4 linked regions of the Homo sapiens genome follow. Changing the gene in region 2 together with the main gene of any one other region gives a genetic interaction. Each region holds a gene or a part of one and is shown on either strand. Other genes may lie near its edges. The genes, in order: ATG10, AATF, GFI1B and MCM3AP.

Region 1 (7,330 bases), on a different chromosome or scaffold from region 2:
CAGGACCCTGCCAACATCTTGATTTCAGACTTCTAACCTCCAGAACTGTGAGAGAATAAATTTCTGTTACTTTAAGTCACCCAGTTTGTGGTTCCTTGTTATAACATTCCTAGGAAACTAATACAGTAACTCTATTTTTTAAGACACTTGACAGCACCTTAAGAATGCCTCCCAGTAAGTTGTGCTGACAAACAGCCAGCTCTCACTCAGGGGGCTGCACTGGTTAGTTGTTGATTGGTTAGATCCAACTCATTCTGATTGGTTGATGCCTCTGTCACAGGTTGCTAAATATTTTTAATATCATTCCTGCCTGGAAAGTAGGCCATCAGATATCCAATACTGTCATTTTTAATTATTTCATTAAGGATATCCATTTTGTAGATGGAATTACTGTTTTAAATTCCAGCTCTACACTATCTGACCACAAAGCAGATCCTGTAATGGTCTTCTACCATTGAAACCTTCGTATTTAGAAAAATGTAAATTTAACATTGGCTTAAACTGAGAAAGATATATGTAATGACTGTTGTCATTGCCACTGTTTCACATCAAACATCCATTCTTCCTTCTTTTGGAGCAGTAGTCATTGCTCCTCTAAGGAACAATTGCTCCTCAATTCTCCTGATTGAGAAGGGAATGGTTCCTTAGAGGAGCATTGGCTACTGTTACACTAATTACAGCTCCAGGGATAGACACAGATCTCTGATCCTGCCCATCAGTACTGCCGGCCCCAGAGACTCTGGAGGACAAATGATTACAGCTCCAGGGATAGACACAGATCTCTGATCCTGCCCATCAGTACTGCCGGCCCCAGAGACTCTGGAGGACAAATGATCTACATCACAGCCAATGGGATGAAATTCAGGATTTGGTTTTGGGGGGTTGGGAAAGGTGGCTGTTCTCTTCTCCACTAGGTTTGAGCCAGACAGACCACAAAAAAAAAAAAAAAAAAAACCTGGCAGCCATCATGTAATTAAACGAAGTTGGCTCTGCAACTCAGAGGAAAGCAAGACCATGAGATACAGAGAAACCACATTCTGACTACATTATTTACACCAACCATATCTGAAACTAGTTCTATCTCAGATTTTTCAATTACATGGCCCCAAAAAGTCCCTTCTTTGCTTCACCCAATGGGTTGGGTTTTCTGTCACTTGCAACCAAAATAATTTTGCTATTAAGTAACATAAATTTGTGTTTATTAGTTTAAAAATAGAAGATTTCTATTGTATTGTCAATCTTGAGATAGATAATCAATAGTTGATTATATAAAAGATTTACCATATACAGTCATGCATCACTTAACGGCAGGAATACCTTCTGAGAAACACGTCATTGGGCTATTCTGTCATTGTACAAACATCATAGACTGTGCTTACACAAACCCAAATGGTATGGCCTCCTACATACGTAGGCTATAGACATAGTTGCTTGCTCCTAGGCTGCAAACCTGTACAGCATGTTACTGTATTAATTGCAGGCAATTGTAACAAAATTTGTGTAAAATTTGTAAGTATTTGTGTATCTAAGCATATCTAAACAAAGAAAATGTACAGCAAAAATACAGTATTATAATCTCATGGGAACACTGTACATGTGGTCTGTTCTTGACCGAAATGTCATTATGCAGCATGACTATACGGTAAAACTATAATAGCATGTGTTTGAGAGAAAAATTACCCAAAGTCTGCAATTTCAAAATGATCTAGCCATAGAGATAAAAACCAAAACTCTCAGGATATTCAGAGAACACGGAGCTGCACTGTGTGTACTAAATATAGCTCATTAAATGAGGGTAACTGCTCTATTTTGTATTTTTCAATACCTGAGCCCTGGTCACATAACCTCCTCTTAAGGGAACATAAAATTTAGTAAAATTCTAATAACAATGCAAAATACATCTCCTTTGACATTAAAAGAGGTGAGTCAAAAATTCGTGTGCACCTATGTTATAAAATCTAAATAAATTATCTGGTCTCTTTCCCAATTAGTTAAGATAAAGAGATATGTCACTTTCAATAATACTTATAATTTGAGGAATTTACTTACATTTTAGGTAATTTCTAATACCATTTTTTTATTATCGATACGGAAGTACGCTGGGTTTTTTGCTCTATATTTGGTAGTGGTGATTTTTTTTCAGTATCAATCTTCTCAGTCAAGATTAGCCTTGAAAAATTAAATATAGAGTTTTTTGGATTTTGATTTCCCTTTAAAGACTTCCACAGAACTAGATGTTTCTTCTACTTTGTTTTAATTTAAGGCAGAAAAATATGTTTTGTGCTTCACTGTTGAAGGATGCTTTTTTAGAGACAAGCAAACTCAAAAGCAGGAGAACCACCACTCTTGTCAGCCCTGCAGTCCACCCAGCCCAGGAAAAAACGATGTCAACTCAAATTCCCCCTTGGCAATGAAGTTTTCCTGACCATTCCAATTAACACTCCTCTCTAGCTTCCCTGCATTCTTTTTGTACTTATCATAGCTTACACTTGAACATTTAACTCTTCTTTAATTTTTTAACATTTGTTAGTTTTATTTCTCCCACTAGATCATAAGCTCAGGGCCTAGGCCTCCATCCTCTAAGGGATGACAAGGTCTTTACAGGATCCAGATTCCATCCCACATAACAACCTGATCCAGAAAGAGTCTGAAAACATCCTGGACAAGCATGAGAGGATTTAAAAACAAAGGGAACCTTCAAGTTTATCCAATTCAAGCCTCTCATTTTAGAGATAAGAGGGTGAAGGACTAAAGCACTTCTAAGAAACTTGTCTTACACTAATTAGTTGGAGGCAGAGCAGGAAGTGGAAAGCGGATCTCTTGACCTGAGTATTCTTTGTAGTACACTAAGCAAATTCTGCAAGAGAGCAGGACCATGGCTTATTGACTCTCGTGGACTGGTGTGGGCCAGTGCTTTGCACTTCAAGTAACAAACTCAAGCCACTCAAGTGTGGTCTGGGGACCAGCCACAGCATAAGCTGCGAGCTCATTAAGACAGACAGGCAGAATCTCAAGCCTCACCCCAGACCTCCTGATTCTGCATTTAAAACATAATCCCCAGGTGATATGTATGCACATTTTGGAAGCACTGAGGCATGTACTGCAATCCCTGACTCAAAGAGACAGCAAACTGACTACATTAACAATGGTTCTCAATCCAAGCTGCACATTAGAACCACCTGTGGAGTTTTCAAACTGTTGCTGGTGTCTCACCTCAGACCAATTAAGTCAGAATCTACCTAGCAGATTCCAGCACAGCAGCCAGAGTTGAGAACCACTGCACTCAATTCCTTGGAGACCCTCTTTTGAACTCAATGAACAGAGTCAATCAGGTAATCTGCAGCTACCTCAGGAGAGAAGTCCACAAACAACTCAAGATCTTCATGAACACCATAGCTCATCTGGAGTTCTCCAAATGCTAAAATCACCTCTGTTAATGCTCTCTTCTTGGAGCTTTGACCATGCTGAGACTGCCTTTGAAGTGGTCTTTACTACTGCCCGAAAAACTAATTTCTGGCAACTTGGCCAGTCTTGACCTGGCCCTCTGAAACTGCCAGTAGTCTTGTAACTTAAAATTGCTCCAAGTCCAACTACACTTCAGCTATTAGGTCTCCTTGCTGTCCATTCACCACAAAGCATGATGCTTCACTCTGTCACTGTAGAAGAATAATTAATAAGAAATGTCCAGCTGTTATAACCCAAACAACTTTCATTATAAAGAGAATACTTCCTCACAGCCAAAACTCTTCCAGTTATCTAAATAGAATGCCCTTCACCTAAGACCAAAATAAGAAATATTTAAATGAGAAAAAAACCCCAAATATGCTAGATGAAAATATAGGAGAACACATATTTTTTAATATGATAAAAACCCAGAAGTCATAAAAGACTGGTAAATTCTACGGCATGCAACGAATTCTTAACACCATAAAGTCAAAAGACATATCAAAATGTGAAAAAGCATTTGTAGCTCATATCATAGAAAAGAACTAATTTTTTCAATATAAAATAGCTTTAATTTCCTCAAAATATAAATAGTTCCACCAAATCAACAGGAAGGGGTCCAATAGCCCAATAAGAAAATGAGCAAAGGATACACAGATAGTTTACTAAAGAGGAAATACATGTAGATAAAAATATGTTCAATGTTAGCCATAAGAAAAATGCAAATTAAAAACTGTGATAACATTTTTTACCTATCAGATTGGCAAAGATCAAAAAGTATGAAAGGGAATGTATAGACAAAGACATGGATAAAACAAGCAGGCACTCTCATACATTGCTGGGGCAGGGGAGTTAAAATTAGCATAAGATCCCTGAAGAGCAGGTTGGCAAAAACTATCAAAATTTAAAATGCACACACCTTGGATCCAGAAATGTTACTTCTAATAATTTACCTTATGGATATAGTCACATATGTAGTAAATAAAATTCATACAAATGATTATTAACATATTATTTTAATAGTATAAGGTTGGAAACAACCTAAATTTCCATCAGTGAAGATTGGCTAAATAAATTATTTTATGTCCAAATAATGGGATAGTATGTAACCACAAAAATAATGAATGAGTTCTGTAAATATTGAGTAATGACCAAGGCTGACCATTAAGTTATTTTTTAAAGCGCAGAACAGTATGAATATATGCATGCTACCATATGTTTAAATGTAACTGTACAGGCTATGTGTACACTGAATATATCCGGAAAGATACCCAAGACCATGGTATCACTGGCAACCTCTAAAGGTTTGAGTAAGGAAAGTAGAAGGGTTAGAAAGGAGACTTAACTTTTTAATGTAAAACCTCTTTTGTGCCTATAAATACATGGCACTTCATTTTAAACAAATAATTAATTGCCCTTTGCACATATGCCTCCAGGCCACCACATTGCCAGAGTAGATTCCAATCTTAAACTTCTAAGGAGAAAATGTCCTATAGGTCTTATAGAATCCAAGAGAGACAAGCAAGTTTTCTAGTGTAGTGCCGATTGCATTTTGGATGGAGATCTAAGGATTTCCTGATAGAACACGTTTGGGTCTGTTTTAGTACAAGCTGTCATAGGGCTATGCCACCCAGCAAGCTATGTTATGCCTGCTGGAATCCAGCTAACAAAATAATTATAGGGCTTTTGTTGCTGAGTTTAACAAGATCTTCTCTAGACACATCTAAAAGAAAATGGGTGGTTATCTAAGGGTCTAAGCTCTACTTCAGAATAAGGCATTTTATATACGACTTCAACTCAAGTTAACTGCCCAGAATGATCAACTGCAGGAAGGGCTTGACAAGTCCATAAAGGAGGAAGACAACTGAAGTTTCTAGGTCAATGCCAGCACTGATCAAACAAGGCCTTCAAGGTCAGTGGAGCCCTGAGGAATAGGTCAAACCTAGGCCACAGATCTCAAGTGACTGTTCTTTGCTGCTGTAGAAGATCAAACCAATACTATCAGTAGCTGTTCAAAACTGATTAACCTTGGGGTAAAAAGAAGAAACTAGAAACTACTGCTAAGTAGAAAAGTTTATACTAGGTAGGTCGGACATTAAACCAATATCCATCCATTTTTTAAAGTTAAAGGTAAGTAATGTAGGCAAGGAACTGTTATGGATGTAGAAGATCCTCCAGAACACAATGCTGAATGTGTTAATACGACTCCTCCCCATACCCCAAATATCCACCCAATCCCAGTAACACTGACTTCAATTTCTCATAGTGTTACACCTTCCAGATGCATGAGAGGATCCTGGCCAGGGTGAACTCTGATGCCTCTGGTTATGTTATATACAAAGGTAACTTTGTATAAAGAGTGACCAGCTCTAGTCAAAGTGATTCATCAGTACTGCTAGCCTCTGGCTCATTTAGACAAAAACTCAAGAATGAAAGAAAATAAGGAGATAATACATTTCATCTTTGATAAAGAAATTTGCACGTCTTTAATTTTCCCTTGGTCCTGCAGTATTTTGGGATTTATTAAACATGACACCTCATTAATTAAATAGTCCACCCATACCTCAGAACTTCTTGGGGGAAAGGGCTGGAGTTACATCTCAGATACTAAATTCCACTTAAGGAAGCTGAGCCTGTCCTTCTGGGAAAGAATTAAGCCTTCTGGATGCATTCAGCCCAATAGAGGCTAGCACCCCCTCGATTCACCATCTCCATGGTATAATCCACAATTATTGCTTTCATTTCTGTGACCTAATTTGTGAATCCCTACTGAACACATTTGTTCTCTAGCTGGGAATTAAACCACAGAAAAACACTGTGACACTTGATCCTTGATTGGTGGTTTTCTGCCCGTGCACAGTTTAAAAGAGCTTTTTTAATGCGGTCATGGTATGAAACTAAAAGAGAGTTCGTAGAATTGTTTTTTTAACAGATAGGGTCTTACTCTGTCACCCAGGTTAGAGAGCAGTGGCATGATCACAGCTCATTGCAGCTTCTAATTCCTGGGCCCAGGCCATCCTCCTGCCTCAGTCTCTTAAGTAACTAGGACTACACTGCCACATCTGGCTGATTTTTTTTTTTTTTTTTTTTTTTTTTTTTTGGTAGAGATGGGGTCTTGCTATGTTGCCTAGGCTGGTCTCAAACTCCTGGCCTCAAACAATCCTCCTGCCTCAACTTCCCAAAGTGTTGGGATTACAGGTGTAAGCCACCACACCCAGCCAAGAATTTGTAGGATTTTGACTTGAAATAGTCTCTATCAATCAGCAGTGTGACAGAGGATTATACCACCTTCAAAGGATTATATCATCTATTATAGTACAGAGAATTATACCCCCTATTATACTACTTACTTCTGCAATGAATCTGTTTATTTAAACAGACTCATTATATACTTTTATTAGGTTCAAATTTCGAATCAACCTATAAACAAAGCACAGAGGACTAAATTATAGTTACTGAATAGAATCTAAATATTATGAATCTTGATGATGTAAAAATAATAATATAATCAAAAATCAGAAAGAAGAATAGGAAGGAATGTGGGAGGTAGAAGTAATAAACTAAATTCTTCATCTATTATAGCAGGAATCAATAGTTATTGTCCAAAGATGAGAAATCAGGAAGGAGAAATATATTACTTAAAGTTACAGGGGTAACCATGAGAATAACTAAGGGATTATTCATCATCAATAGGGGTTCCATTAAGCAAATTAAAATCATCCATACAATGGAATACTACATAGCTATTATAAATAATAAGGTAATTCTGTATATGCTTACAAAGAAAGATGTCACTGATATGTTAGGTGGAAAAGTAAGTTATAGAACAACAATGCCATTTATATAAACCCATATATAAATGTGTATAAATATATTTATATGTGCA
Region 2 (7,330 bases):
GTGAGCATGGAAAAGGACTCTGGAAGAATCTTTATAGGTGAAAAGAGGAGACAAAAAAAGTCAAACAACCGTGTATTTGTGACAACAGGCAAATGCCTCCAAATTACAAAGTCCCCTAGGTTTTTGGGGGAGTCTCTGCTCCTCAGAGCTGTGATAAACCACTAAACATTATCCACTCAGCAGCATCCTGGCCAGGTGTGGTGGCACACACCTGTAGTCCCAGCTACCTGAGAGGCTGAGGTGGGAGGGGATTGCTTGAGCCTGGGAGGTAGAGGCTGCAGCGAGCTATGATCACAGATCACACCACTGCACTCGAGCCTGGGAGACAGAGCAAGACCCTGTCTCTCACATACACACAAAAGAAAACCCTTTTAAATTTATTTTTTTAAACTGCTCCTTGCAGAGCAGGGGTACCCCCACAGGCAGAGTGTGCCCAGAGTAGCTGAAACCTTTTTTTAAAAAAATTAAAAGAAAGAAGCATCCTATCCCAGCATCATTCCTTTTAAGTGTTTTTTGTTTGTTTGTTTGTTTTTTTCCAGAAGGAGTCTCACTCTGTCACCCAGGCTGGAGTGCAGTGGCGTGATCTTGGCTCACGGCAACCTCCACCTCCCGGGTTGAAGCGATTCTCCTGCCTTAGCCTCCCAAGTAGCTGGGATTACAGGCACATGCCACTACACCCGGCTGATTTTTGTATTTTTAGTGGAGACTGGGTTTCACCATGTTGGCCAGGCTGGTCTCAACCTCAAGTGATCCACCCACCTCGGCCTCCCAAAGTGCTGGGATTACAGGCATGAGCAGAAGCGCCTGGTCTTAAGTGTTTTTAAAATTAATAGTTTAAATTGACAAACATAATTGTATCCACCTATAAGGTATAATGTGATGTCTTGATAGTGTATATACAACGTAGAACGATTAAATCAAGCCTGTCCATGTATCCATCACCTCACTTATCATTTTTTATGGTGAAACATTTGAAATTTACTGAGTTACTCTGAAAAATACATTATTGACTATAGTCACCCTGCTGTATAACAGATCTCAAAACTTCCTCCTCTGGCTGGGAACGGTGGGTCAAGCCTGTAATCCCAGCACTTTGGGAGACCGAGGTGGGCGGATCACTTGAGGTCAGGAGTTCGAAGCTAGCCTGGGCAATATGGTGAAACCCCATCTCTACTAAAAAAAAAAAAAAAAATCAGCTGGGCGTGTTGGCAGGGGCCTGTAATCCCAGCTACTTGGGAGGCTGAGTCAGAAGAACTGCTTGAATCTGGGAGGCGGAGGTTGCAGTGAGCCAAGATTGTGCCACTGCACTCCATCTCTAAATAAATAAATAAATAAATAAATACATACATAAACAAATACTTCCTCTGACGTGAAACTGTAGTCTTTGACCAACATGTCGCATTCCCTGCTCCCCCACCCCCCTCAGCCTCCGGTAACCACCATTCTACTCTTTAGTTCCATGAGTTGGCCTTTTGTAGATTCCACGTATAATTGAGATCAGGGGGTCTCTGTCCTTCTGTGCTTGAGTCATTTCACTCGGCATAATGTCTTCCAGTTCAACCACATTGTCGCGAGTGTCAGAATTTCCTTCTTTCTAAGGCTGAATACCCCTTATCCATGTAAGAAACCCAAAAGCAAGAAAACAAATAACCCATTTCAAAAATGGGCAAAGAATCTGAACAGATATTTCTCAAAAGAAGACATACAAATGGCCAACAGGCTTATTAAAAAATTATCAGCCCCACTAATCATTAGGGAAATGCACAGAAAAACCACAACGAGGCCGGGCGTGGTGGCTCATGCCTGTATTCCCAGCATTTTGGGAGTACGAGGTGGGCAGATCACAAGGTCAGCAGTTCAAGACCAGCCTGGCCAATATGGTGAAACCCCGTCTCTACTAAAAATACAAAAATTAGCTGGGCATGGTGGCGAGCACCTGTAATCCCAGCTACTCAGGAGGCTGAGGCAGGAGAATTGCTTGAACCTGGGAGGTGGAGGTTGCAGTGAGCCGAGATTGTGCCGCTACACTGCAGCTCGGGAGACAGAGCAAGACTCAGTCTCAAAAAAAAAAAAAAAAAAAAAAAAAGATAAAAGAAAAAAAAAACCACAATGAGACATCACCTCAGACCTGTTATAATGGCTACTATCAAAAAGATGAACCCCTAAAATGTATACAACTATTATATGGCAATAAAAACTTTTTTTAAAAAAGATGAAAGTTAACAAGTGTTGGTAAAGACGCGGAAAAGGGAGCTCTGGCACGCTGCCGGGGTGAACGTGGACTGGTACAGCCATTATGGAAAACTGTAAGGAGTTACTAAAAAAACTAAAAATTCAACTATCCTACGATCAAGCAATCCCATTTCTGGGTATATATACAGATCAACGGACATTACTGTGTTGAAGGGACACCTGCACTCCCACGTTCATTTCACCCACAACAGCCACGCTATGCAAACAATCTACATGTCCGCCAGGGTGAGTGGGTCAAGGAAACGTCAAGTCTGACATTGTATGAGGAGGCCACTGGACTAGAAAAAAAAAAGCTCAGTAAATGTGTCATCCACTAGAACCAAACCAGACTGACTCTCAGCCTCTTAAGAAATCACAAGCGGTGGTGGCGGTAACAATGCTCTTTATTTGTGGCGTTTAAAGGCGGGGTTGGGCGGGACAGCGCCCTTGCGTGTATTAGGCACAGGTTCGGAACGCAGCATCTTTCCAGGGGCTTCCCTACTAGCTCAGCCCCATAAAGTCACTGGTTTCCTCCATCTGGACCAGCAGCCGCACCAGCCAAGGCGCCCACTGGGTGTCGGAGGTGGGCGATGTCAATCCCCGTGGCCTTCGTCGGGAGGGTGGAGCTGGCCAAAAAGAGAGCGGTACAGTTCTGTCCTAAAAGACAAACACAGCAAACTGGTTAACACACTGGTTCACTATTCAAGGTTAAAAAGGAACGCAGAAGCTGGAAAATACCCCATTCTGTTTCTTCTGTTGAAAACACAGCCATGTAATTAAAAATGCACCCCACAGCTCTTACTCACAAATACAACAGAAGGAAGAAACCCAATCAAACAGTAAAATATGTAAATGGTCCAGTGCGGCTGGACACCCGTCTCCAGGGAATGAGTGTTCTGTAAGTTTGCCCTTTGCAGACAGGCTCTTCAAGTAAGAAAACAAGATTGAATATTTTAATAGGATGTAGGAGACCGCCATCCGATGAGGAGGATTCAATCAGACATGGGATGTAGGGGGATATAATTTAGTTTTCATACATTTTCTTGGACTTGGCAGTACTTGAAAAACAATGAAAATGAGCCAGCAACACGATTCCAATTACTATCATCTGTGCAGTTGTTCAGGAAGAGAACCAAGCTTCTTCCACACTCCCCAGCTGCCCTGTCTCTATTCTCAGTCTAATAAATAATATGATTGGCTAATTTATTTCTAAAGTTGGGTTTTGACATTAAAACAATAACATGCCAGGGTCTTGGGCCCCTAAAAAGAAAAGTAAATGACCACTTTCAAACTCTTTTAAATGCAACATACACACAAACATCGGCCAAAGCCATGTGTCAAGGCCTGGAAAACCTAAAAGGGGTGTGGGTGGGGCAGGGATCTTTCCTATCGTTGAGACAGAAGCTCCAGAACACTTTCCCCTGTGGATACAGAGCAGATCCTCCCTGCAGAGACATGAGGGACCCATGAGGTTCCAAGCAGGCAAGACCCGTGTGAGGACGTCCCTGTCATCAGGGAGGTGGGCGTGTAGCACGTGGCCGCAGAGGCAGCCATCCATGTCCACGCCCTGCAGAAGGCCCAGCCGGTAGCCCTCACAGAGACAGGGCAGGCGCACACAGGGCTGAGGTCATGGGCCAGGAGCCCCAGAAGAAATCTACACCTGCTCGGATATTCTCAAGATGGAACTCAAATTCCAGCCTGCCGTCTTGTTTTAAAAGTGCTCTCATCATCTGAGGGTCAGCATCGGCACATCAGACTTTAAAAGCAAAACCAAAAAACCCCACCTTTCAAACAGCAAGGCTTCAACACAAAAAACTACTGGTCTTTTTTTGAAGTCACCCTACTATAGTTATGGATAGGAATAAAGGTACTACAATTAGGAAATCCAACAAAAGGAATAGAGTATCAAAGCTTTAAAAAAGTCAAAAGAAAAACATCTTAAGGAAGAACTACAGAAGCCACAAATGTAAGCTAGCCTTATCATGTTGGGGACCGCGGGAGGGACAGGCAGTGAAAGTGCAGGCCAGAAAACAACAGGCCTCCAATTTTATTACAGGAATTTTATCCCAAGAATGTGCTGGTGCCTTCACCCTGAACTACCCAGCAGACCCCTAGGCCACAGACAAAGGACACAGCTTCCCCCTTGGCTCCACCCATCTCTTCTGCTCTTCTGTTACACACATCCATGTGACTAGCCTCAATCAGCCCAGACGAAGCCTGCCAAGGTGGACGGCAGCCCCAGACCAAATGCAAACCCACGGCTTCCAAATCAGCAGCTCCGTCACACGGATACTTCGGTGCCCAGGGCAGGCTCCACTTCATCACACCATGGCCTGCCTATTTGCCAGTAAAGACAAGTCTCTCTAGCTGTTTCCACACAAAAAATTAAATGGCGTGAAAGGGAGAGTTGCCATAACAAAAGGACAGTGTGACTTTAGGACAACAACGTCTGATGAGAAAGAAATGCAGAGGCGCGAGGCTAGCCCTTCACATCATACCCTTTCCAGCCTCGCCGCGCTTGCCTGCACCAGACCCCATCATTACCACTGAGCAAATGCTTCCACTCTGCGCGCAATATCAGTGCAACGCCTGGGCCGAAGGCAGCAGTTACTGTCCGCAGCAGGGTTCACGTGTCAGGAGCAGAGAGTGAAATGCTGAAACCCATGTTTTCATAGAACATCATTTCACACTCAGGTGGGCAAAGCTGACAAACATATGCAGCTGTTCATGGCAAAGCAACCTGGGAAGCTGAGTGGTCTGGGTTCTTAAAATATTTTCAGAGAGAGAGAATATCAATAGGGGATTATTTCAATCTAAAAGTCCCCAAGCAATTTCAACTTTTACATCTTCCTCACCCACTATCACCAGCTGGTGACCGTTTTTACCTTCAAAGCATCTCAAACTTCACAGCTCCTCCAGGCTTCCACTAGGTCAGATCTCACCGTTTCTCATGAAGCACACAGCAACAACCTCCTGGCTGACTCTTCCACTCCCTTCTCTGAGACAGACAAAGCAGACCCTCCCTGGGGCCCAGGAGCAGCATGGGGATGAAGATCCCCGCCCCACACGCCCCCCACCAGCCACCCCCACTGTAGATTCCAGCGGTTCAGCTTGGCCTCAGCCCTTCCTCTTTCCAGGTCCTGGCTTTGGCTCCTGCCCTGAGCAGCTGGGTGGTACAGGGAGGCACAGCCCTTCCTCCCTCTTTACTAGGTTGGAGAAGGTAGGGTTGCACATTTTTATAACGTTTTTCACAGTAAGTTTAAATAGTTACAAAATATATAATGACCAGGATGTTGTGAAAATTAACTTTTGTAATGCCTGCAATGGAACCTACATGCCATAATGATTTGATACTCATCGTTCATTCAAGTAACACATAAACTATTTTTTTTTGAGATGGAGTCTCGCTCTGTCGCCAGGCTGGAGTGCAGTGGCGCAATCTCGGCTCACTGCAACCTCCGCCTCCCGGGTTCAATCGATTCTCCTGCCTCAGCCTTCCAAGTAATTGGGACTGCAGGTGCGCACCACCACGCCCGGCTAATTTTTTATTTTTAGTAGAGACGGGGTTTTACCATGTTGGCCAGGATGGTCTCCATCTCTTGACCTCATGATCTGCCCGTCTTGGCCTCCCAAAGTGCTGGGATTACAGGCGTGGGCCACACATAAACTTTTTAACTTGGACATTTTATAGCACCTTTTTCTTTTTAAATTTTATTTCCACCTGACTTTTCCCTACAGAGTTTTGTCCTAATATAATGGTTTCATGCTTGAATGTCTTTTATCAATCACCCTTATCATACTTCTTGGCCACATTAGTCTGTAAATAAAAGCACTTTTGAAATTTTTAAAATTCAAAAAATTGAAATGAAAATATTTTAATTGTTTGACATTATAAGGCTCTAAGTAGTTTAAAAATGTTCCTCTGGATTATTATTAGGATATAATCAATATATAATAATATGATATAATATATCCTAATTTTAGTGAAAATTTAGTATTCATACATGTGTAAAATGTTATTAGAAATGCATCCCTTAATGATATGGATGAGGCTTTTCCCTCCATTTGTTCATGGATCCATGGAGGAATATTATTTATTGCCAGAATGAAGGAGGGTTCAGCATCAATTCTACTCCTATTTTTTTGTTTTTTGTAGACATAAGCACTGAGAAATGTTGTCATATAAACAAGCAGATAGGAATGACAGAGTTCTGGCATAGCAATGCCACTTGATTCTTTTTGCTCTTTCTGAATTATACAGCACACACAAAAAATCGCACAGTGACTCGTCCCCAAACATTAGTCCTAACGGTCAACCAACTGCCAACTCAATTCAACTCGTGTTCTCCAGCGATTCTGCTGGAAGTGAAGACCCAGAAACCACCCGGCCTGCACAGGGCTTGTCCTCTAGTCCTTAGGCGTTTGCTTTCTCAATCTCTGTACCCATATTTCCAGCTGTCCTTGGGTTTGAGGCCCTGGAGGTTTTCCTGTGGCAGCCCGAGGTCCATGTCACTTTAAGGAGGGGCTCGAGGGAGGCTTTTCAAGGCCAGAGAAGGACGAGGGTAAAAGGACAACCTAGCCCTCCAGCACAGGCCTGCTCTGGGGCAGACAGCTTTAGGAAAGAGCGTACGTCTGAAGACTGACTCCTTGACTATCTGTGTCTACCTTCCCCTTGGAAAGTCTCTGCATACCCCAGTGTGAAGACTGAGCCACAGGGTGCACTGAGCTCTTCCTCCCTCAAACCTAGGCAGGTGTCTAGGTGCTTAGGGAAAGGCAAAGACATCTGAAAAGAAACAAAACATGTCCACAGCCCTTACCCCATCCCAAGAAAAACTGCAAGTAAAGACGAGGCTACAAAAAGGTGCCACTGGACAGAGGGCCAGACCGCCTTCCACTGCATAAACATTTCCCCCCGGCTGCATCTTCCTAACTGGGATTTAGCCATGTGGAGAAGCTAAACTATCAATCCTCCAGGTTAACCTTGTTCCATCAGATTCTCCAGGGTAAGTGTGTAGTTTCATACCTGAGGTCCCCTTAAGGCTATGCATAATCAACTTTTTAAAAAAACACATAATTCCTGCTCCCCATCACATTAAGA
Region 3 (7,324 bases), on a different chromosome or scaffold from region 2:
TGAGCCTCATAAGTTGGCATGCAATCAAATACACGTTAAACAAGTCAGTTCATGAACCGACAGAAACCATCGGACGATAGTGGCGTTTCTTTGGAAAGAATCCTTCTTTCTCTAGGAAAGAGGGTCTCTCTGTGGGTCCCAGCTCTGGTCTACTCTTGGCATCCCTGTCTCCCTGGGGGTATTCCAGCTTTCTGTGCTCTGCTAGAGGAAGGCACCTGAGCACACCTGGAAAGGGTAAGCCCTAGTATCTATGTTTGTTTGTTTGTTTGTTTCCGAGATGGAGTCTTGCTCTGTTGCCCAGAGCTGGAGTGCAACGACAACATCTCGGCTCACTGCAACTTCCACCTCCCAGGTTCAAGCAGTTCTCCTGCCTCAGCTTCCCAAGTAGCTGGGTTTACAGGCACGCGCCACCATGCCCAGCTAATTTTTGTATGTTTAATAGAGACAGGGTTTCACCATGTTGGCCAGGCTGGTCTCGAACTCCTGACCTCAAGTGATCTGCCCGCCTCAGCCTCCTAAAGTGCTGGGATTACAGGCGTGAGCGCCTGGCCCATATCTGTGTTTTTTTTTTATGTTTGACCTCTCTGGGCCTCAGTTGCCCCATCTGTAAAATGGGAGAATGGCATTCCATTGCAGAAGGTTGTGTGGGTTAGAGACAATGTATGGAAACCCTTGGCTTAGCTCAGTACCTGCAAGTTCATTCAGAGGTGTCCATGGCTGTGGGCCAGGCACAGGATTGGTGTGGGATGGGGGGTGGGGTGCGGCTGGAGCTCAGACAGAAGACCTCCTGAAGTTATCCACACATAACTGCATTCCACATTCAATGGCTCCTAAGCTGTAAGCAAAGAGACTGAGTTGCTCGGTATCAGAGGAGAGAGAAGACCTTCTGGCTGGATGACCCAGGGAGGCTTCATGGAGGAGATGGCTAAGTGGGCCTTGTAGGATGGACAGGACTTCAAAAAGGAATGTTCACAACTCGGCAGCACTTACTACGTGCTGGGCTGGACCTGTATGCCACTTTGTAAGAATGGTCTCAGCGAATCGGTGGAAGGGACTGCTGTGTTTACCATTTTACAGAGGAGGAAGCTGAGCCCCAGAGAGGTTCAGGAACTCACCTGAAGTCACACAGCTAGACAGGTGTGGCACCAGGCTCAGCTTCATCACACCTGCAAAGTCCCTTTTACCCTATAGCGTCACACTCATAGGTTCCAGGGTTAGGATGTGGATATCATCTTTGGGGCCATTATTCAGCCAATCACGGTGATTACGTTCAGGATCTTGAGATGGGATGATTTATACCTGAGCTCAGTGTAATCAGAAGGGTCTTTATAAGAGAGAGGCAAGAAGGTTGAAAGCAGAAGACAGAGATGGAGGCAGAAGCAGAGATCCAAGTTATGTGCTTTGAAGGCAGAGGAAGGGGCCAAGATCAGAGGCACAGACGGCCTTGGGAAGGTGAGAGACAGGAAAACAGACTCTCCTGGGAGCCTGCTGCAGGAATGCAGTCCTGCTAACACCTTGATGTTAGCCCCATGAGACTCATTTTGAGTTTCTGGCCTCTAGAATTTAAGAGAATAAATGTGTGTTGTTTTAAGCCACTAAGTTTGTGGTCATTTGTCACAGCAGCCACAGGAAACGGATACCGCCCCAGCTGCACTAGCCTTGCCCACCCCTGTGGTCTTGTCGCACGGGCCCCTTCTGCTTGCTCCTGGCTCGTCAGCGGGTCTGTGCACGTGGGGGCTGAGTACACTTCTCCACAACTTGCCTATGAGCACCTCCATGGCTTTCTCTGCTCCTCAAGCCTCCCCGCATCACTCCCCAAAGCCTCGTGCAGTACCCTGGACCTCATAGGCACTTAATAAATGCTGGTCACATGGCAGCAAATCTGTATCTTTAATTTTATTGACAGCAGTTGAGAGAACAGGCTTTTGACAGCAATAACTGCCAGTTTCTCCAGCCTCACGGCCTGGTTGTGGAGCTAGAATCCCCAGAGGCCAGCTGAGTGCTGGTCGGAAGTCGGAGTCAGCCAGCACATCTGGCCGAAGCAGAGGGGGTGCCAGGCTTCTGACTGGGGTGGGAGGCAGCTCCGACTCTGCCTGTTATAGCCAGAAAGAGGCCGGCTAAAATCCAAGGTGACCAGGTCCCAGCTCAGTGGGCAGCAGGCAGGTGGAGGTTCTGTCTGTGGGTCCCAGCTCTGGTCTACTCTTGGCATCCCTGTCTCCCTGGGGGTATTCTAGCTTTCTGTGCTCTGCTAGAGGAAGGCACTTGAGCACACCTGGAAACAACTTCTGCTGAGAAAGACCCAGCCAGGCTCCCACACTTGGCAGCAGGAGAAATGTTGATCCAGACAGGGTAAGTGACTTGCCCAAGGTCACACAGCAATTTCATGAGTCTCAAAACAAGCTGGTAGACTCCTGTCCAGTCCCACCTCCAGGAGACTGGAGATTTGGGCATGTGAGGCTGGCCTCCAGGTGACAGGACCGCAGGGCAGGCTGGCCAGGAGCTGGGAGCCGGCGCAGCCTCACTTGAGATTGTGCTGGCTCTCGCGGTGCCGCCGCAGGTCCACCTTGCGCTGGAAGCCTTTGGTGCACAGCTCACAGCTGAAGGGCTTGAAGCCTGTGTGCTTGCGGCTGTGGGTGATGAGGTTGGAGCTCTGGCTGAAGGCCTTTCCGCACACCTGGCACTTGTGCGGCTTCTCACCTGCAGGGAGGGCAGCGCAGCACAGCAAGGGCGGGGTCAGGGCCTCCTCACCAGGCCTGCTGCTCCCCTGCCCTGCCCCCGGGTTCATTTTCCAATACCTTCCTGTGTTTTCTCTCATGGCCAACTCACATTCACTTTAGAAAATAATTAGAAAAGAGAGAGAAGCAAAGATACAACTTGGACCCTCCTCCACCCCTACTGGATTATAGGGTGGTTAGGGGCAGCTGCCGAGTCATCTTGTTTATCAATACATCTCCAAGCCTGGTATACCTGGCACAAAAGAGGCACTCAGCTAATAGCAAGGAGGCAATGAATAAGCAAGTGAATGAATGAGTGAAGGAATGAATAAGCAAATGAATGAGTGAACAAATGAATGAGCAAATGAGTGAGCGAATGTGTGAATAAATGAGCAAATGAGTGAATGAGTGAACAAATGAATCAACAAATGAATGAATGAGTGAACAAATGAATGAGCAAATGAGTGAACAAATGAATGAATGAGTGAACAAATGAATGAGCAAATGAGTGAACAAATGAATGAATGACTGAACAAATGAATGAGCAAATGAATGAGTGAACAAATGAATGAGCAAATGAATGAATGAGTGAACAAATGAATGAGCAAATGAGTGAGCGAATGTGTGAATAAATGAGCAAATGAGTGAACAAATGAATGAGCAAGTGAGTGAGTGAATGAGTGAACAAATGAATGAGCAGTTCGCCTGCTAGTCTCATGTCTGCCATGAGATCAACAGTGTTGAGATTTTGCTGTTTCCTCCCTGTATTTTTTTCCATGCATTAAGTGCACTTAAGTAGCACAGGTGCCCAGCCCTCCATCAGCAGTGGCCTTTGACTTTGTAACTAGACCCCGCCCCCAGCCTCACGCTGGGGGCCTCTGATGCATCTCTCAGGGAAAGGTGGGGGTGCTCTGCCCAGGGGGCACAGGCAGGTGAGACTCACTCACCTGTGTGGATGTAGGTGTGCTTCTTCATGTCGGACTTCTGGTGGAAACGCTTGCCGCAGAACTGGCAGGGGTAGGGCCGCGTGTCTGAGTGGATGAGCAGGTGGGTGGACAGCGTGGACGAGCGCTTGAAGGCCTTGCCGCACATGCGGCACTCGAAGCTGCGCTCCTGCCGGAGGAAATGAGGCCCCGGGGGGTCAGGTGCAGGCTCAGGACTGGACCCGGCCGGGATCCCCTGCGGAACAGGACACTCCATTGGGGCGGCCTGGAGGAGCAGGACCGGGGGACCCCTCATCTCTGCCTCTGAGGTGAAACTGGGGCTTGGAGTCTCATTGGTCTCCTGTGGGATTTTTCCTTGTAATCTTCACGGTATCCCGCTCAAAATAAACCTCAATAAATGTTCGTTGATTGACTGATGGACTGACTGATCTCAGAGGTTCTTTAGGGGTTCACATTTCATGACCATTAACCTAGAGTGAGTTCCTTGAGGCAGGGATGGTTGTGGTCTGCACGGTGGTTTAGTTAAGAGTCTGAAGTTTGTTAAGGGCAGGTGTTGGAGACCCAGACCCAGGGAGGTGGGTACTAGGGGACCCCTCCCAATCTGTGTCACCCCCAGGGGCAGGGGGAGGGACCCAGCCACAGCCCCCAGGCTCCCTGGGGAAGCACAGAGAAGGAGTGGGGCTGGGAGTCCTGCGCTGGGCCAGGTGCCCACCTGGGAGTGGACGTGCGTGTGCTGCTCCAGGCTCACAGCGTGGCCGAAGGTTTTGCCGCAGATGTCACAGGCGAAGGGCCGGGTCCCACTATGGGAGCGTCGCACATGCACTTCGAGCCCGTGAGGGGTGGAGAAGACCTGGGAGCAGGGGCAGCATGTGAGGCCACTGGGGGCTGCGGTGACAGGGACAGGCCTGGGGTCCCATGGTCTCTTCCATGCCCAGCTCTGGCCAAGGCTGGGTACACAGAGTAAGGGGCACTGGATTGCCAGTTCTGCTGCTTGCTTGCTGTGTGTCCCAGGGAGGTCCGTTTGCCTCTCTGTGGCTCAGTCTCCCTTCTACAAAGTTGGATGTGAGAGAGGGGATCTGGAGGCCCCTCCTTGCCTCATCTAGAGGCTGAATAGCCCAGTGGTTAAGAGCTGGGAGTTGGCCGAAGCTGGGTTTGAATGCTGGTTCTGATATCTACTTGCTGTCTGATCCTGGAAAAGTGACTTAACCTCTCTGAACCTTAACCTTTCATCTGACTCTGGCACTCATGCCTGTCAATTGCTTAGCACAGGGCCAGGCACGTGGTCAGAGCTCAATGAATGGTGATGAGGATGAACGTTTTGAATCCTTAATCCCACCAGAGCCCCAACATTCACAGCACAGAGAACGCCCAGAGCTGCCAGTGAGTTGAGAGGGAGTGCGGAGAGGAGGGCCCAGGTGCCCACCACACCCCCCGCTGCCCACCTTGTTGCACTTCACACAGTGGTACGCATCCATGCCTGGGGAGTAGCGGAGGCTGAAGTCCAAGGCGGGCTCAGTGCTGGGCACAAGAGGACTGCCGTACAGGCTGACGGAGTGCTCCAGGAAGGCTGACTGCATGGTGGAGGGGGCCTGCCGGTAGCTGTGGCCATAGGTTGTGGCCAAGGTGTCCCAGGAGAAGCTAGGCTTGTAGAATGGGGGTGAGTCGGACAGTGGAGAGTCCCCATCCTGGGGTCGGGACAGCACAATGGGGCCCTCTGTGGAGATAACGACACAGGCCTGGTTACTCATTTAAACACAGGGGGTTGGGCACAGTGGCGTGGCTCATGCCTGCAATTCCAGCACTTTGGGAGGCTGAGGCAAGTGGGTCACTTGAGGTCGGGAGTTCAAGACCAGGCGGACCAACGTGGTGAAACTCTGTCTCTACCAAAAAATACAAAAATTAGCCAGGCGTGGTGGCTCACGCCTATAATCCCAGCTACTAGGGAGGCTGAGGCAGGAGAATTGCTTGAACCTGGGAGGCAGAGGTTGCAGTGAGTTGAGATCGTGCCACTGCACTCCAGCCTGGGCAACAGAGTGAGACACTGTCTCAAAAAATAAAATGAAATAAAATAAACACAGGGCACCCCCTTCCCACCACCCTCTACCACACACCACTACCTTCATCACCTCATGTGGAGGGTTTCAGGGTGTCAACCCAGATACTTACTGCCAGGAATGTCTGGGTCCTCACTGTGGCTCCTCAGCTTTTCCAGCCCAGAGACACCCCCAGCCTCACTCCACAGTGCCCACCTCACTCCCTGCACGGACCGGCCCAGCTGCTGCTTCTGGCCTCTTCTCCCACCTAGCCCACATCCGGGAATTAGCTCCCTGTCTGAGAGGCCCAAGCAGAAGCCACAGAGCCCGGGCTGCATCCAGTGACTTCGTGGGTCCTTCCTGACTCCAGGGCCCCAAGGGGCCCTGCTGCAAGAGTCCCTTCATCCTTCCTCCCCTTGGCACTCCCTGGGGAATGACAGTGGGTCACAGCGGGGTACCTGGTGCCGGGGCCATCCTGGCCAAGTTCTGGTCCTGCTCCAGCTCCGGCTCTCGTTTGAGGTTGGTCCAGTCCAGGCACTGGTTTGGGAATAGAGTGCTAAGGACAGGGCTGTTGCTTGGAGCCTGGTCTCTGGGCACTGTGGGGAGATAGGACCATCAGCATCAATAGCCACGGTTTCTGGGAAGCCCAGAGGGAGCAAGGAGGGCACGCCCTTCCTAGGAGGAGGAGGCCCAGAGAGACAGCCACGTGCCGCTGCTTCTGGCGGCTCACACTCCCGGGCTCTGCCCAGAGCAGGCGGCGGCAAGAAGAGGCCAGGAGGAGACCCCGGGGAAGACTTTGGACCAGTCTGTTTTTCTGAGCAACCCAACTCCAGCCCTAGACTGGGCCTCCAGTGAGGCCCCACATGCCAGTAACTAAGTACTGGCTCCAACCTGACACTCTCGTCTCCCTAACAGGGCAGAAGGGATGAGGGCATCACTCATTTGTCTACTCCTTTCATCTGCAACCCACAGTTACTGCACTCCTGTTTCCAGACTTGGAAGAAGAGGCTGCTGCAGGAGGGACGCTGCTGCACCCTCATCACGCAGAGCAGAGAGCCCCCCGTGGGTGCAGCAGGCGCCAGCCCGGGCTCTGACTCACCCGGGGTAAGGGCAGGAGGCCAGAGCGGTTCATCTTCCTGCACACGGGGCTGGTGGTAGGTGTGAGCCTTCTTGCTCTTCACCAGGAAGGAGCGTGGCATTTTCAGTGTGCACCCCACACCTGCAAGGGGGAGGGATGGGAGCGGTTAGGAAGGACAAGAGAACAATACCCCTCCATATCTCAGAACCTCCTCCTGAGATAAAACACCAGCTATACTGGGTTGAACAGTGGCCCCCAAAGTTCATGTCCACCCAGAACCTGTGAATGTGACCTTATTAGCAATAGGGTGTTTTTGCAGATGTAATCAAGTTATGATGAGGTCATTCCGGGTTAGGATGGGCCCTCAATCCAAGATGACTCGTGTCCTTATAAGAAGATGGAAATTTGGACCCAGAGACACAGACACCCAGGGAGAACGCCGTGTGCCGACAACAGAGCAGAGAGTGACACTTCTATCAGCCAGAGAATGCCAGGCAGTGCCGACAGCCGCCAGAACTCGGAGCTTCTATCAGCCAGAGAATGCCAGGCAGTGCC
Region 4 (7,330 bases), on a different chromosome or scaffold from region 2:
TAATGAGCATGAGTTAGACCTACTACAGACCACACACCACAATTTAGAAGGGCGCCTGAGGCCCAAAGGGGAGTGTCTGTGCTAATGCCACAACTTCTGCCAGATAAGCAGCTCATTCCCTTCTGAGTGCATAGGAAGGAGCAGCCCCATGCCATACTGGGCTTGAGCCAGCCAGATGGCCTGTCGGATCTGTGTCAAAACAGCCCAAAGACCTCAGCCAGGAACAGGGGCACAGCCAGAGCCATAGAAGAAGGCCTCTTTGACAAAGAAAGAATGTTAAATCAGCACTGAGTGCCATGGCTGCGGCTTGGGGACAGGGCTACATGGTCCCCATGCTCTTTGCCCCTTGTCTGTTCTGAAAACAGGGACCCTGTGGGCAGGCAGGACAGGATCAGGGTTGGTGTTCCTCCCAGTACCACTTGTCACTTTTCTCCTGAAGCTGAGTGAACTCCCATGGACTGCCTTGCTGGTCAGGAAAGGCTAACAGCCCCCACTCCACAAAACCCAGCTTGTTCTGGCTCATGAACCCAAAGGACCAAAGGAAGGTGCAGGCGAGCACAGCATGGAGACACACGGAGGTGGACGTGCAGCCCTCACACTGGTGCCCAACACCTGCCAGACGGTTACTACAGTGAGAAGGAAGCCTGAGACTTGGCTGCAGCCACCCACCAGACCTCCCCAGGTCAAGCACGTACCCCCCAGGGGTGGAAGGTCCATCTGCGGAAGCTGGAACCCGAGCACAGCCTGCTTCAGCCAGGCCAGGTGCTCTGGGGCATTCCAGTGCAGGTGAGGAAGCAGCCGGCTGCCCCCTGCCTCAGCAAACTCAGTGACAGGCCAGGACAGGTCACACAGCTGTTCAGAGGACACCACAGAAGCCAGGAACTGCAGCACACTGTTAAACAGCTCAATGATGGCGCCAGGCTCCTGAGAAGCAAGACCGCCCAGACGCCTCTCTCTTCTGTCATGGAAAAAGCGGCCACTAAACTCATGGCCAATCCCGTCTTCGACGTACTGAATGAGAGTCTGGCAGCAGAGGTCAAGGGAATGGGGGCAGTGGGAAACCAGCCACTGCACTGCTTGCAAAACCTGAGAAGAAAGAAGAGACTTGGTTGAACAATTCACACTGTTTTTCAAAAACAGCTTTCTGAAAGGGCTTGATCCCCCAAGGTTGCCCACAGCAGGTAATACCAGAGTACTGGGCTCTCAACTGTGGTAGGAAGGGGAACAGAAGTGTCCTATGCAGTTGAGTTTAGCCTTCTAGGGCTCTGGAGACATGTCCAGTAGGGGCACTAAAGAGAGCCCCCAGATCCCACCTGGCCTGAGGAGGAGTGTGACCTGCATGGTTGCCCCATGGAAAGGCCCAGGCCCTCAGGAAACCAGCCCTGAACATCCCCTTCACCATGCACAGAAATGGAGTCTTCTCCTTTTTGGAAGGACTAACAGCTTCACTATGTGCCAAGGTGCCTTCACACCCTATGGTTATCTTACTTCCTATAGTTATTTTAATTCCTGGCACCTCTTTCTCTAAATTGTTAGCAAAGACTCCCCCTGCCCTATTTTTTTTGTTTTTGAGAAGGGGGTCTTGCTATGTTGGCCAGGCTGGTCTCAAACTCCTGAGCTCAAGCAGTCCTCCTGCTTCAGCCTCCGAGTAGCAGAGACTACAGGTGCGAGGAGCCACCACGCCCAGCTTCAGACTTCCTTTTTAAAGGAAACATCAAATAACATTATTTCTTCATATATTCAGAGGACAATTACCCTAGAAAAATAACTTCTGTATCTGACCTTCAGATATAAGACATGTTCATATTTTAAATTCATAGAAACAAAAACACTAAAAAATTTTACATGAACAATTTAATTTGCAGATAGCAGGACTGTGGGCAAATTTTATCTTTTATTTTGATTTCTGCTTATGTTTTTAGAAAGTTATCTGTATAAAACATACAACTGCTGCCAGGCGCAGTGGCACACCACAGTAGTCCCATATACTTGGGAGACTGAAGTGGGAAGATTGCATGAGCCCTGTAGTTTGAGGTTGCAGGGAGCTATCATCATGCCACTATACTGGGTGACAATAAAACCCTGTCTCTTAAGAAAAAGACAATGCAAACGCTAATATACACTCAATTCAAGATACAGCAAAAGGGGAAAAAACAAAATATCTTGACAGACCATTAAAAATGATGAAACCTTACCTTAGTTGAACCTTGTAGATCATTAATGGTATCAGGGATCTCGGTAACAGTGTAATCTGAAATCAGCTTAGCTGAAACCAAGTCCTGTAGCATCAGACCTTTAAGACAGACATAGATGAAGGTCACTTGCATTCTGCTGTCAGCACACCTGCTAACATATCTCACTGTGCTGACCCCACCCAGTCCTGCAGTGGACAGTCACCACAGGGGTTGCTGTCTCAGTGATTCCTGACCCCAACACTACTGGACCATCCTCAGACCCAGGGCCTCCACCCATTTATTAAACAATGCTGCTTCATAAACGAGACTTCCTTCACAAACCATCTTCTACTTCCTTCTCAACGGCGTCCCCTCCTGGGCTAGGCACAAGAACCACCAGAGGAAGCGCAGGCTGGAAGGGCTTAGCCTGCAGGAGCTGCTTGAGCTGCAGCAAGGCCGACAGCCAGTACACGTCCTCCTCTGCCATGTCCTCACTCTTCATTTTGGGGGGAAGCAGCAGCATGAGCCCACTGGCTCCCAGGAGGTCCTTCTGTGTCTCCACAGCATCAATGGCACCATCACTGAGGGCGCCATGGGCCACCTGCAACAGCATCAAGATCATCAGGAGAGATGCACCATGGGACGCATCAGCAGTGACTGATCTGCCCCAGAGCAAGTGCAGCCAAAGCTCTCCGTGCACTAAATACTGACTGTACTCCAGACAGGCCTCCAAGGGCACAGCTGGGCATACCCTGTAGTTATCTTACTTCCTGTAGTTATTTTAATTCCTGGCCCCTCTTTCCCTAAATCCAATTGTTAGCAAAGACTCCCCTCAACCTTTTTTTTTTTTTGAGAAGGGGGTCTTATTATGTTGCCCAGGCTGGTCTTGAATTGCTGGGCTCGAGCAGTCCTCCTGGTTCAGCCTCCTGAGTAGCTGAGATTACAGGTTCGAGGAGCCACCATGCCTAGCTTCAGACTTCCTTTTTAAAGAAAACGTCAAATAACATTGTTTCTTCATATATTCAGAGGACAATCACCCTAGAAAAATAATTTCTATATCTGCCCTTCAGATATAAGGCATGTTCATATTTTATTTTATTTTTATTTATTTATTTTTTGAGATGGAGTCTCACTCTGTCGCCCAGGCTGGATTGCAGTGGCACGATCTCAGCTCCCTGCAATTTCTGCCTCCTGGATAGTAGCTGGGATTACAGGTGCCCACCACCACACCCAGCTAATTTTTGTATTTTTAATGGAGACAGGGTTTCACCATGTTGGCCAGGCTGGTCTCGAACTCCTGACCTCAAGTGATCAGCCTGCCTCGGCCTCCCAAAGTGCTGGGATTACAGGTGTGAGCCACCGCGCCCACCCATGTTCATATTTTAAATTTATAGAAACAAAAATGAGAATAAATGCAACAGAATTAGTGCAAGAAACAGCCAGGTCAACAGGTAATTTAGCCTCCAGCTAGAATTGTGTTTGACCATATTACTATAACTTTAATTAACCTTAAACAGGTATAAAAAAGTTAAAGCTAGGCACAGTGGCTCATGACTGTAATCCCAGCACTTGGGGAGGCCAAGGCAGGAGAACTGTTTGAGGCCAGGAGCCAGGAATTCAAGACCAGCCTGGGCAACATAGCAAGACCCCATCTCTACAAAAATAAACAAAAATATAAGCCCATAATAATAGAAAGAGGGAAGGCAAGCCAGCAGCAGATGAGGGATTCTGATACATTTCTAGAAAGCAGCAAATAGGTGTGACCAATCCCTGGGTTAGGGAAGCAGAGGATGCCATACCTAAAGGCTGCAGATGTGGGTGTGTAAGGAGTCAGGTTGACTGAGCCTGCAAAAGCCCTGTATACCCAGGCGCTGCAGACACCAGGAGCCAAAGGTGAAGTTCAGAGCCTGACCCTATTGGCGGCACCCACCACTGCAGGCAACCTCTATGCAAAACCAGTCCCCCTGGGCCCCTGAACAGGAGTCCTGAGAGGATCCAGATGCAGGGCCATGGTCAGGCACAGTGGAAGGGACTCAGCGCCAAACCACTCCCAACCCTACCCTGAGAATACCAGCAGCTCCCCAGAAAGCAGATGGCACAAGTCCTTTCCAGAAAAACTGAACAGTCTAGGGAACAGCCATCCAGATCCAGACATTTGGGAGTCCCTCCAAAAAGCCTGGCTTGCCATTTAGCTACCATCCACCCCACCCCAAACACAGAACTTCTTGGCTAGCCTTTTAGGGCCTCACTCAGATATAGACAGATAGCCTTGGGTAAGGCATCTGAGGAGGGCCTCCAACATAAAAGAGATAAACTGGAGTAACAGAGAGGAAAAAAAAAAAAAAGAGGAACCAGATAATACGTGAACCAAAGAAAACTTAGACCCCAAAAACCCTAATTTCCTTGGAAAGATAAGATGATGCATCCAAAAAATAAGATGCTATGAAAAAGTCATGATAAAAAGAAAGAGGAAATAAGTAATATATATGGAATAAAAAATTCAGTAGGACAATTGGAAAATAAAGTCAAGGAACTCTTTCAGAACACAGTAGGAAGAGATGAGATTGAAAATAGGATAGAAAATAGGATAAGAAACTCAGAGGATCAATTGATGAGGCCTAACATCTATCTAATAGAAGTTCAAGAGAGAACAGAAAAAAGACAGAGTGTCATAAAGACATGAAAATGTCCCAGAAGTGAAATAGGAGTCTCTAGCCTGAAAGGACCTGCTAAGCCCTGCACAGTGAGTGAAGCTAGTCCAGTGCCAGTGTAACAAAGTGAATTTTTAGGACGCCATGAACAGAGAGAAAAGGCTTCCACAGAGAAAACCAGGCCACACAGAAAGGAACAGGAATGGTACAGCAACAATGGATGCTAGGTGACAGTGGAGCAAAACTGGAAGGCAAATAATTTTCTTTCTTTTGAGACGGGGTCTTCCTCTGTCAACACCGGAGTGCAGTGGTGCGATCACGGCTCACTGCAGCCTCGAACTCCCAGGTTCAAGCAATCTTCCCACCTCAGCTTCCCAAGCTACTAGAACTACAGGCACACACCACCATGCCCAGCTAATTTTTGTATTTTTTATAGAGACAGGGTTTCACCGCGTTGCCCAGGCTGGTCTCGAACTCCTGCACTCAAAACAATCCGCTCACTTCGGCCTCCCAAAGTGCTGGGATTACAGGCATAAGCCACTATGCGCGGCCAGGAAAATAATTTTCTACCTATAATTTTACAAACGTAGCTAAACTATGAAGCAAATGTCAGAATGAAATAAATGCATTTTCTTTTTCTTTCCCCCAGCTTAAGGTATTTTGTTAATAAAATCATTTTCATAATGGAAAAGACTCAGAAAATTCCCCTCGCATGACATATAACATCCAACAAGGGGCTGAACCAAGAAAAAATACTGCAGCTGCTGCTAATGGCAACACTGAGCAAGCACCTGGCCTGTGCCAGGCACTGTCCTGTGCAGTCTGTGTTTGCACTCATTTTATCCTCAAGAGCCAGATGAGCATCTCCACCAGACAGCACCTGCAGAGGCTTGGGCAGTTTATTTTACCGTCTCTGAGTAAAATAGGGATAATAAGTAACAGTACCCATACACAGGTGGCAGAGACGCTAGGGAACTTGCCCAAGGTCACAGAGCTTCCAAGTGGAGGAGCAGGGACACATATGCTCACAATGATGGCACTAAGGCACATGTTGCCTGGATGGAGACCAGCCCACAGATGAGAGTTCCAGGACAGAGGGAACATGGATGGATCAAGTGAAGTGACAGAACATTTGGAAAACTCTACCGAGATATATACGGCCCCCCAGTAAAATTAAAGAGATAAAGAGAACTACATTAAGTGAGACAATAAGGCAACTCTATTTCTTGCAGGAAAAAAATAATTGTGGTTATAGAACACTACTGGTTCTGAGGTGAATAGCAGTCACAGAGCCATCAAAATATGACCCCACTCACTGAAGTAATACAAAGTGCTAGTGTAGCTATCCCGGGAAGACGTGGAAGGCCGAGCAAGGACCATGGCACAAGAGGCCACGCTGTACCTAGTATGGTATGCAGTGGCCAAGAGGACCCCCCTGATTCCACCTAGTGTTCATGCCCACGTGTGATCTCCTGCCCCGTGAGCTGGGCCTAGCCACTCACTTCTGACAGACAGAAGCCAACAAAAGCAACAGGATGTCACTTCTAAGTTTAGGTTATAAACACACTCAGACTTCCATCTAGGCTCACCTCTTGCTCACTCTGATGAAAGCCAGCTGCCATGCTGTCAGCTGGGGAGAGGCCCATGTGGCAGGAACTGAGGAAGTCTTTGGCCACAGCCTGCAAGGAAGTGAATCCTGACACAAGCTCACTAGAGTGAGCTGGGAAGTAGATACCCTTCAGTCAAGCTTTCAGATGAGGCCACAATCCTAGCCAACATTTTCATTTCCACCCATGAGAAACCTTGAGCCAGAAGACCCAAGCTAAGCTACACCTGGATTCCTGACCCACAGATACCATGATAACAGACATTATTTTAAGCTGCTATGTTAGGAGTAATTAGTTATTTAGGAATAAGGTAACTAATACATTTATATTAATGGGAAGTCAGCAGAGAACATTTAAATGGATAAACTGAGAAATGGCTGTGTAAGTGTGTGATCTGGAAACAGGAGAAAAATGCAGCCCTGAAGAAAGGAGTTAAGAGAGGAAGGAGGAGCTACTATGTCTCATTTTAAATCACGTGGGTGGCATTATTTGACTTCTTTTTAAGTACACGGAAGTGTTACTTTCTTAAATGAAAATGAAGGTAACAGCAGCAGTAAACTAATTTCCAGTAGATGAAATGTGACTTTGTAATCCCAGGAAAAGGGAAGAATTTGCACCAAGAAGTTACTGTTACCTCAGAATGGCAAGAGCATGGATGGCTCTTATCATCATCTTTATACTTCTTTTACATTTCCTCATTTTTTAAAAGTTTTGTGTACATATTACATTTAGGAAATCCAATATATAGTATTAAAACAGAAAAAGTAAAGAAGCAGGCTGGGCTTGGTGCCCACTACTCAATTTGACTGGCTTAAAAAAATTTTTTAAACGACATGTACGGACAGACATAATACTTGCTTCTGAGCCTCCCAGTCTTTCAAAACCACATTAGGGAATA

What was found.
Region 1: of AATF (region 2) and ATG10, changing one suppresses a phenotype caused by changing the other (phenotypic suppression), as found in Homo sapiens cells (one large-scale study listed by BioGRID).
Region 3: changes in AATF (region 2) and GFI1B together harm fitness less than expected from each alone (positive genetic interaction), as found in Homo sapiens cells (one large-scale study listed by BioGRID).
Region 4: changes in AATF (region 2) and MCM3AP together harm fitness more than expected from each alone (negative genetic interaction), as found in Homo sapiens cells (one large-scale study listed by BioGRID).

What each region holds. Positions count from the first base shown.
Region 1 is NC_000005.10:82,050,054-82,057,383, reverse strand, and holds part of ATG10 (ubiquitin-like-conjugating enzyme ATG10), read right to left. Parts: intron 2,153-7,330; exon of another isoform or gene 2,050-2,152; intron 1-2,049. UniProt on the Homo sapiens protein: E2-like enzyme involved in autophagy. Acts as an E2-like enzyme that catalyzes the conjugation of ATG12 to ATG5. ATG12 conjugation to ATG5 is required for autophagy. Likely serves as an ATG5-recognition molecule. Not involved in ATG12 conjugation to ATG3.
Region 2 is NC_000017.11:37,052,160-37,059,489, reverse strand, and holds the end of AATF (protein AATF), read right to left. Parts: intron 7,236-7,330; exon of another isoform or gene 6,328-7,235; intron 2,890-6,327; coding exon 2,826-2,889; 3' UTR 2,619-2,825; downstream 1-2,618. UniProt on the Homo sapiens protein: Part of the small subunit (SSU) processome, first precursor of the small eukaryotic ribosomal subunit.
Region 3 is NC_000009.12:132,986,245-132,993,568, reverse strand, and holds the end of GFI1B (zinc finger protein Gfi-1b), read right to left. Parts: intron 6,911-7,324; 5' UTR 6,891-6,910; coding exon 6,791-6,890; intron 6,288-6,790; coding exon 6,150-6,287; intron 5,373-6,149; coding exon 5,101-5,372; intron 4,509-5,100; coding exon 4,371-4,508; intron 3,894-4,370; coding exon of another isoform or gene 3,828-3,893; coding exon 3,662-3,827; intron 2,832-3,661; coding exon of another isoform or gene 2,812-2,831; exon of another isoform or gene 2,730-2,811; intron 2,698-2,729; coding exon 2,519-2,697; 3' UTR 1,882-2,518; downstream 1-1,881. UniProt on the Homo sapiens protein: Essential proto-oncogenic transcriptional regulator necessary for development and differentiation of erythroid and megakaryocytic lineages.
Region 4 is NC_000021.9:46,244,112-46,251,441, forward strand, and holds part of MCM3AP (germinal-center associated nuclear protein), read right to left. Parts: exon of another isoform or gene 5,475-7,330; intron 2,776-5,474; coding exon 2,517-2,775; intron 2,294-2,516; coding exon 2,196-2,293; intron 1,087-2,195; coding exon 696-1,086; intron 1-695.